Linked DNA regions of Homo sapiens. The protein of the gene in region 3 purifies or fractionates together with the protein of the main gene of each other region. This does not show direct contact. Each region holds a gene or a part of one and is shown on either strand. Other genes may lie near its edges. The genes, in order: OLFM4, LYPLAL1 and FABP3.

Region 1 (3,533 bases), on a different chromosome or scaffold from region 3:
GCCTGCTCCGTACCCAATGCACAGCCCATCAATAAATCACTTGCTGACCGTCCTGCTGCAGAGTTACATGGTGAGTCCTGCTGTTCATAACCCATATGCTATTGTGCCATAGAATGACATGCAAGTATTTCATCTTTCCATCCAGACACTGTCATTGTCACAATGTGTACAATCAAGTGGGACAAGATTCACTGGTCCACTGAATCTACATTCCCTGTAACACTTGGGTAAATAACTCAGTCTGGGCGATCAACCCTTCACATTGTACTCCCGCTGAAATGCCTGCCATCCCAGGAGTTTATGAGCTATAAAAATAAAATAAAGTTCCTCCAGTATTTTTATAATAACTATCCAAAGAGTTGAACACACATTTTCTGGGATCTTAACACTCAAAAAAACTCATGAGATGGTTTATTGGATAACAAAGAAAACCCAACTTCAAGTATATTTGAGGTCATTTTCCCTCGTCCTGCTGCTCAGAGCAGAGCAGGTGAGACAGGAAAGGAGCAGAACCTGAATTGTTGGATTTGGCCTGAAATACTTGCAGGGACTCAGAGAGCCATTGAGGAACATGAGGTGAGCTGGAGCCAAAAGCAGAGCTCCAAAGAATTGCCTGAGATTAGCATGGAGGCGGGGAAGGGGGAGCAAAGCCTTTGTCTCTGGGTCTCTGCTGTGTCCAATATGGAAAGACCCATTCCTTTCCTTGCTAAATGCTTTCCCTCCCCATCCTCCTCACCCAAGGACTGCTCAAAGGTGAAACCATTACTAGAAATTCTGTTTTTATTTTTCCAATCGGCTGGGGCTTTTTGGTCCCAGAATTAAATATATGCTCCTTAAATGCTCTCATAAATCCACAGTTGGTGAGAAAGCCAGCCAACCATACAACAGGTAGAGAAATGAAACCACTCTGTATCCAACCTCAAATAATTTTGCATATCATTAAGCAGAACACAGTCACAGGTTTATTTTAATAATGCATGTGCCATTTCATAAATAAAAAAGCAACGTGTTTTCAGCCAAGAGACTATTCTCCACTGAAGAAATAATAAATAAAATTATAAATTATTATTTCTTCTACTAAAAGTGATCTCTCAGATGAATGCTTGTTTGCTTTTGTTTATGAAACAATGCATGAATTATTAAAATAAAGTTAGCGGTGTGTTCAGTTTAATGATAACAAAAACTGTTCAAGTTTCCATATGCTACAAACTGGATTTTCTAGCTAAAGTATCTTCCTGAGAACTTATTTATTTAACTACATTTCACTCTGAGGAAAGTCACTTTTTTTTCTTTCAGGTTGGAAGACAATAATTGTTTGCTTCATTGAGTCTTGCCTTCCTGAAAAGAAAATATCCCAAACCGACAGCAACAAAATATTTAAGGAAAATTGATGATGCATATAACTTATTCAAGCACTACCAAGAGGTTAAACTATTCTGTCCCCAGATGTGGAAATTTTTAGACATGAAGGAACCAAAATAAACTTCTCAAAAAATTACTATTACTACTGCTATTATCATAAAACTAATTGCATTATTATTAGTATAATAGTATTAGTACTATTACTATTGTTACTACTACTAATAGTAATAGTGGCTCATCATTTCATAAGTTGACCAGAAAATTCAAATTGCCCAGTGTAAATATTAAAATGTATGAAACTTTGTTTTTCTCACCTCCCAAACATTCCTAAACACTTTCCTGTTCATTTGTTATCCTCCTTTTATCCTCTATGGGTAAGGATAAAGGGCTATTTTTAGGGCCCCGGCTGTGGTAGAAAGGAAGTGGAAATGGGGATGAGAACTCAACATTGCTGCCAATGCTACAAATGTGGCCACAACAATGTCAGACCAGGAAAAATGCTATGGCGGGCTTCCTCGACTCCTGGCAGCAAACCATCTTGGACACGATACTGAAACTGACAGCCAGTCCAGTGCCCACTGTTCCTCAGAGTCCCCATCCCCCCATCCCATCTTCACTGAGCTTCTCACCACCCTCCCTTATCTCATGCTCCTTGCCAGCCCCTTCCTTCATGTCAAGGTCTTAGACATACTTCATTCCATACTTCATACCCAGTTTCCATCCCAATTTCACCCTGACACTTGGGCAACAGCCCATTGCCCAATCATGATCCAAGAATTCTGAAAGACCATTGAATCATTTTGCATTTTCTGGTGGAAGAGAACACACAGCACAGAACTGTCAGGAGCAACAGTACCCTTTTACCTACTCCACTACCAAGGAAGCAAAAATAATTTGGTGTTAAGCAGATAGGTGAGTTGTTGGAATTTTCTTTTCACTCCAGAAATCACAGGTGCACCTCTCTGTTAGAGCAGCTATGGAAGGCAGCCTAGTATGGAAAATACTACTAGACAGATTCTAATTCAAAGCCTGATTCCAACAGTAGTTGTGTATCCTTGAGCAAGTTACTTAACCTTCTGAGCCTCAGTTTCCTCATGTCAGAAGAAAAATAATACCAACTCTGCAAAATAGTTACGAAAAATACAGAGAAGACATGTAAATGTTACTCAGTAAATGGTAAATATCTCAATATAATCACATCATGTTACAACTGGAGGTTTAGATGTCTCATTTCCTAGATAGTGGCTTCTGGAGGTTTCTTTACTCATGCTGGTAACCCCAGTACCCAGAACAGGGCCAGCCACACAGTGGCACCAAATTATGTTTGTGGAATAAAGGAATGAAAGATTAATCAAGTCACCTAAACTCAGCTTACCCTTATTTATAAAACACTAGCCTTCTACCCTGCTACATATCTGGTTTTTCAAAAAGCCTGGCATTTACTCCATGGAACATAATTTGAGGAACCCTCTATAGAAGTTTAGCCTTGGTTGGCACTCTCTTCATCATGCAATTCATTAGATGGCACCATGGTACTCTGAAAATACCTGAGGAAGCCATAATCATGAGAATTTAAAATATTCTGACTTGGCTTTTTAAAAGTATCATGGTTAGTAGCATTTTTTTGAAGCCAATAATTATATGCCTACAGAGGAAAATTAGTCTTGGATCTATTAATGCACTCTCTCAACTGGGCAACTGAACTTTGTTTGAGCCAGGAGGAGAATATGATTGACTTATAAGAATTAGGCAATTAAAACAATCATAGTCATAAAATGATTAAGACTAAATTGACTCTGAAGTGTTGGATATATGCTGTTCAACATGTGGCTCTTCCCTAAGCTTGAGATTTTAGCAGGTCACCCCATTTCTTTCAGACCCCATTTAATCATCAGCTACTTACTGAGCATCACTATGGACCAGCACAGAACCTTGCATCCCCAAGCAAACTGGAGATCAACCCCTGAGCACCCGATCACATTTGGCCTATATACAGTCATTTAGATTCACAGGCAAAACAGAGACAGACTGAAGTTTTAAGGGAAAAAAGTTAATGAGTAGAAGGCCAATTATTTTAGATTAGAAAGTTCTATGAAATGAGGCAGAAAAAGGACGTTGTTTGTAGCAAAAACCAAATAGGAAGCATATTTTATTGAACCTGGGATACATTC
Region 2 (3,661 bases), about 190 Mb from region 3:
GGACTTAAAAAATACTTGCTAAAGATTGAATGATGACTGAATGATACATGATTCACATGTTTGGAATTCTATCTTCTAACTACTTCATAATCCCCTAGACTAAGTTGGGAATCCCTTCCCTACACTCTTCCTAGTCCTCCCATAATGCTCCATGTTTATCTCTATTAGAGTTAAACATCAACGTTAAACATGGAAACACAGAAATATAGAGTTAAACATAATGAGGAAACTAAGGACCAGAAAGGTGATGTTGTTATGCTAGAGGCCACGCTGCTTTCAACAAAGTGGAAACTAACGCCAAGACAGAATAGAATGGATTTTATCCATTATATCATGTTGTCTCTCATGACTCAACAGACAGTTCAGCACTTCAATAAACACAAAGAAAGTTTATTAGTTTACCCAAATCCCATCTATAAAGAATTTCAATGTGCATTTTAATGTTATTTAGAACATAATGGGGATACTTAATTTGCTTTTTAATTTCATCATTAAATACAACTCATTGTAAGTTAAATAGTTACATTTGGAAATAAAACCCTTTCACCAAAATATGTCGTGTACCATTCATATTCTACATGCCCCATCTCACTTTTGCATGTATTAGAAAAAGATTTTAATAATTTATGTATATGCTAAGTCCAGAAACAGAAAAAGGTATTAAGCAGAATAAAGAGCTTATATAAAGCTACTTATATTCCCTTAGGAACAGGGCTTGCTAAAGACAGTCTAACAAAAATTTACAAATATTCTTGTGAGATTAACTCTGAAGATTATAATTTTCATAAATGTAGTGGTATATTTTGACTGTATATCTTAATGGCAATAGATGTTTAAACTTATATTCATAAGAGTTAAGGTAACTGAAGTAAAATGTTTTAAAAATTGAAATGAATAATTTCTTAACTGAAAATTAAACTAGAAGAAAAATTTTAACTGCCACAAGAGTCTCAAAATCCGTTATTATTCAAAAAGAAAATCAATTAAAGTTTCATGCGCTGCTGTTTATAATTCTAATATCTTTGAAATCCTCAATATGTAAAGTTTATCTGAAACTATGAATGCATCGAATGATATACAAGTGCTTCTAAATAATGTTCCAAGTAAGATTTGATGTATAGAATTAGACAAAAGTGAACAGTGATAAATTACCAACATTTAAAGGTCTTACCTATTAATATCCTGTTCTTCTTGATGCCACTTTTTACTTCTTCATCAATCAAATCAGTAAGCACTTGACACATGACATCAATTGATTCAAGGTGTTCTGGGCAGTCATTGGTTATTTTAAATCTGTCAAACCATACATTGGAGATTCCTCCTTTCATAGGAGTATATGATCTGTTTAACAACCGCCCCCCCCCAAAAAAAAAGAAAGGAAAAGGGAATATGAAAATGGATGCTTTAATTACCAAAATAATAGTGTTTTGAATAAATGATTTCAATTTCTTCTAAGTTTTATAAGTTAAATGCATATTAAAACTACTCTCATGTATATTGTATTAACTATCCCATACTTGTATCTAATCCATTAAAATCTACTAATGCCAGTTCATATCCTCTTTACCTACTCCCTCCATCTTTTAAGAGGGAGAACAGTTACAGTACCAGTGAATCTTAATCCATTCATTGTATATTCATGCTCTGGGATACTATGTTGGTTAAAAAAAATACACACACATACGTGCACAGGCACACACACCATCAAGATATTCCAAACTGTAATGGAGTAAAGGGGGTCCTGTATTCAAGTATTATGTTGGTAGATGTAAATGAAAGGGGAACAAAAAAAAACCTTAGAGATTTCTGTGGGCAAACACAGAGAGGGATGGGGGCTATATTAGATAAACACAGAGAACAAATGTTTTCCAAATATGAAAAACGGAAGAGTTGCACAGAAGATAATCCTTATCCCTTGGCATGCCCTGCTTTCTCCTCACGTAATGATGAGAAACAGAGTGGCAAAGAAAACATAGCCAGTGACAAAAGTGCCTATAGTAATTTGAAAGAACTCTAAACCAATGACAAGTAATATTTCCCTTTGATGAACCCAGACACAGGATTCTTTCCACACCAATACCTCCTCTACTTTGCCATCTCAAATTTAGCTGTATACTGTCACCCACCAAAGTTAGTAAAGTAAAAGCATGAAATGTGCAGCTAAATTGAAAAACAAAAATAGACGGCTAAAAGACAACAGGTGAGACCTGAACATGCTTTTGTACTTCTTCTCTAGTGAAAAACCCAAGTAGAACCTCAGCATATTCAAGGAGCTAGAAATATTCAATTGTCATTGGCCTTGGGATGCATACAATCTTTAGGACCAGTGGGTGGTGCTGGAAGGGAACAAAATTACACCATTTTTCAATATTGATCATACCACCCCAAAATAAATGGACATCCACTTAAGGGGCTTGAACGTCAAGGTTATATTTGGAAAGTTTCTCAGAGAAACTAAAAAAAAAACCTGGAAACAAGAAAGTTGAACTGACTAAAATTTAACAAAAATTCATATACGGGGATCTTTTATTTACTCAAATAGAATCATATAAACATTACTTTGTAACACATTTTCTAAAATTTAAATGGATATGATGAATACCTCTGAAAGTCAGTACATAAAAACTTAAATGTTTTCCCTAAGTTTATGCAGATACATAAAATTTTTTAAATATGAGATTATATATATATACATTGTTTAGATGTTTTTCATGTCAATCTTATTCATTTTTTACCCATCTCTACATTCCTCCTCTTCTCTCCAACTCCCTCACACATCTTGTCCTTTACATTCGGTAAACTGTGTAAATGATCTGAAATATATCCTTCAATGTTATTCTTATAAATTAAAATATGCATATTTACAGGCTATTTCTTGGCACACTATTTCTTTTCAAAAATAAAGTAGTCTATCTGATTCTATTATGTGCATCATGCTTTTTTCCTTCAACAATATCTCATGGAAATCCTTTCATCAGTTACAGTTCTAACTTACCCTTTTAATGGCTATATTATATCCTATGATAAGCATATTCTGCAATTTAATCAGCCATTCCCCTAATAATGGGAATTAATTTGGTACCCAGCTTTTAGCCACTAAGAAATATGCTTCATTAAACATATGCATACGTGTTTTTATCTACTGGAACTTTTATTCCTATGGAAAAGAGTCAAGAAACAGGTTGGATTAAAAGGTACAATTTTTGTCTTAATAGATGTCTCAAAGTTGCTTCCATAAAAGTTGTAAAAATTTACCTTTCTACAGGAAAGGTAGGAAAATATCCTTTTGCCCACAGCAGTAATAGCAGTAGGTGCTGACATACATTAAAATGTTACCATTTAAGAGTATCAATTGAAGTTTTAAAACCAACTTTATTGAGGTATAATTTACATATATAAACTATATTGAACTACACACATTTTAGGTGTATAGTTCAATTACTTTTTACAATGCAACCACCATCTCCACAATGATACAGAACATTCCTTTTCCTTGGAAAATTCCATCATGCCCCTTCACGAGCAACTCCCGTAACCTTCCCAAGCAACTACTGAGTGAGACTATCAACATTGATTTCTTTTGCCTGTTCTAAAACTCCACATAAGTGGAATTGCTGACTGATGTCATTTGCTATTATTTTTTCCTATTGTCATTTCAATT
Region 3 (2,823 bases):
GCTTCTACAGCTCTCAGGGGAGGACTTGGCTTTTTAGAACAGGCTTGGCTGAAAGAGCAGTAGTAATAACCAATCAGATATAGCTCCAAAGTTGCCCATCTTACCAGGATGAGTTTTCCATCAATTAGCTCCCGCACAAGTGTGGTCTCTTGCCCGTCCCATTTCTGCAGGTGAACAAGTTTCCCTCCATCCAGTGTCACAATGGACTGTGGAAAGAGGGTAGAGGCCTGAGCTGTGATCTTAGTCAGGAATTGAGGGGCAGGGTGGGGTCTGGACACTGGGCCACAGAGCACACAGCCTTTGACCCAAACTAGTGATGGTGTGAGGACAAGAGCTCAGGCAATCCGCCTCCCAGCTATCCCTGCAAGACATCTAGTTCACCTCCAGCCTCTGCTCCACTACTGCCTTTCTGGGGAAGAGGCCTTCAGATATTAGGCAAGGAGGGAGAGGCAGGCAGTATGGTGGAGCCAGAGAGCCTGGCTCTGAGAAGTACCACAAGCCTTCAAGACAGACACTTATCTGTACTCTAGGTGATTCCCGTAGCCTGGTCCCCTCAGATACAGGTGGGATTTACTAGTCTATCCCTGGGAAAGACTGACTGAGGAGGAGGAGTAGTCCTGAGAATCTTTATCCAGCCTTGTGGTTAGTCCACATAATGTCTAAAAGACCCTTAGTGATAGGAAGTATTGGATAATTAGACTTCCTGCCCTGTATTCCTACACCTTTTCTTGGTCCACATCATGTGACCTCTTTAGCCAACAAGAGGGCAGCAACCACAAAGTCCTGTGACTGGATGCCCTTGAAGTGGTTCCTCAGCTCTGGGTGCTGCCAGCATACATACATCAGCTGGTTCTCATTTGGCAGCTCTTCCAGCTCTCTTTCCTAGGAGTTTGGGGGCCACAAGGCCAGGCTAAGGGATCCTGATGAGCAAGGTGGTTCAGTAGGAGAATCTGAGAAGGTTCTGTGTATTGTTTAGGTGATAAGGGGTATGAGGCCTGTCTCTTAGTGTGCTCTTTTTTATCCTTACCTTACTCCTTGTTCTCATTCCCCTAGTTTTTTTTGCCTACTCAGAGTAGATATTTTTGCCCTAGGCATTCCACAGGGCTATTGTGTTTAATTGGGGTTCTTGCCCCTTGAGAAAGTAGGCAAGTCCAAGGAGGTATGAGCAGGTGGTGGGGCAGCCACCTTTATCCAAGGTAGACTGCCATCTTTGGGCACCATCCCCAGCTCTGCTGCCAGCCACCTGTGTGATCCTGTTCTTTCTGGGGACAGCTATGAGGAAGAGGAAACAGCTGATGGGGCTGAATGATAGTGTCATGATAGAACACTGCTATAGGGACACCCTATAGAGGTCAAAGCCCTTAAGTTCTCTCGCTCCCATGCCTGGCCTGGAAGGCTGAGGCAAGCTGCCAAGACAGCCACTGCAGGGTGATAGAACCCTGGGAGGAGGGGCTAAGGCTTGGTGGGAAGACACTGCAAACACATTCATGACAAGGTGAATGCCCTATCACGGAACATAGCTCTTCCTGCCTGTCAGCTGGCAACACTGGAAATAGTTTGTCAGGGTCATTGGCCATGTCTGGGAGTTAGAAGTTGAAGCGGCATCTGAGTAGGTGCTTCTAGTTCCTGGCTGCCTTTTTTGCTGCTGGAGGTCACAATGACCTCACTCAGTGGAGGGCCCTGACTTCTGGGCATCATTCCTAAAGCACTTCAGGTCACAGCCATGGCCACATAACTCTGCCATCTATGGAAGGGGAAAGAAACCTAGAGCTACTGCATACCTTGCACAGGGTCACCCAGCTGGAGCTGGAGTAGATACTGAGGTCAGAAGAACATCCTGGCTCTGTGCTGCCCATTCCGAGGCAGACAATAGATGAATCCCAAGAAGGGAGGGAAGAAAACAAGAGGACAGAACTGACATGTATTTAGCATCAGTGGCATTCCAGCACTACACAGGCTTTATGAATCTTGTTTCATTTAAATTCCCCATGATAGTCTGCCCCTCAGGGTGCAATACCAGGGAGCCAAGACTACCAGCCTATTCTCTTTTAGAGTCTCAGCACTCTCCATTCCCCACCCCTGTTTCCCTGACTTACCTTGACCTTCCTGTCATCTGCTGTTGTCTCATCGAACTCCACCCCCAACTTAAAGCTGATCTCTGTGTTCTTGAAGGTGCTGTGTGTTTTTAGGGTGAGAATGTCCCCATTCTTTTCGATGATTGTGGTAGGCTTGGTCATGCTGGCCACCTGCCTGGTAGCAAAACCCACACCTGAGGGTAGGGGGAAGGTTATGAGTATATGAGCTGGGGTAGAGAAGCAGTGTACAAGAAACTCAATGAATAACTCTCAGGCCTGGGTATGGGGAAGTGGAGGACTGTATCTTTCAAAGCCTTTGCATGGGAATTTTAAAATTCAGTCTTGCGCTTAGTTCTGTTTGGTGAACACAGATAACTGATCCCATTAGATGAGAGATACTTAAGGAACAGCAGTGCCATAGCAAGTCAGTGGCAGAGCTGGGATTAGAATAAGCTACTATTGGGCCAAGTGTGGTGGCTCACGCCTGTAATCACACTTTGGGAGGCCAAGGCAGGCGGATCACATGAGGCCAGGAGTTTAAGACCAGCCTGGCCAATATGGTGAAACCCGTCTCTACTAAAAATACAAAAAATTAGCCAGATGTGGTGGTATGTGCCTGTAATCCCAGCTACTCAGGAGGCTGAGGCTGAGAATTGCTTGAACCTAGGAGGTGGAGGTTGCAGTGAGTCGAGATTGTGCCACTGCACTCCAGCCTAGCCAACAGAGTGAGATTCCACCTCAAAAAAAA

Evidence for each region.
Region 1: the proteins of FABP3 (region 3) and OLFM4 purify together in Homo sapiens (co-immunoprecipitation; one large-scale study listed by IntAct). This does not show direct contact.
Region 2: the proteins of FABP3 (region 3) and LYPLAL1 fractionate together in Homo sapiens (co-fractionation; one large-scale study listed by BioGRID). This does not show direct contact.

What each region holds. Positions count from the first base shown.
Region 1 is NC_000013.11:53,045,737-53,049,269, reverse strand, and holds part of OLFM4 (olfactomedin-4 precursor), read right to left. Parts: intron 1-3,533. UniProt on the Homo sapiens protein: May promote proliferation of pancreatic cancer cells by favoring the transition from the S to G2/M phase. In myeloid leukemic cell lines, inhibits cell growth and induces cell differentiation and apoptosis.
Region 2 is NC_000001.11:219,190,762-219,194,422, reverse strand, and holds part of LYPLAL1 (lysophospholipase-like protein 1), read right to left. Parts: intron 1,342-3,661; coding exon 1,172-1,341; intron 1-1,171.
Region 3 is NC_000001.11:31,367,289-31,370,111, forward strand, and holds part of FABP3 (fatty acid-binding protein, heart), read right to left. Parts: intron 2,303-2,823; coding exon of another isoform or gene 2,270-2,302; coding exon 2,097-2,269; intron 207-2,096; coding exon 105-206; intron 1-104. UniProt on the Homo sapiens protein: FABPs are thought to play a role in the intracellular transport of long-chain fatty acids and their acyl-CoA esters.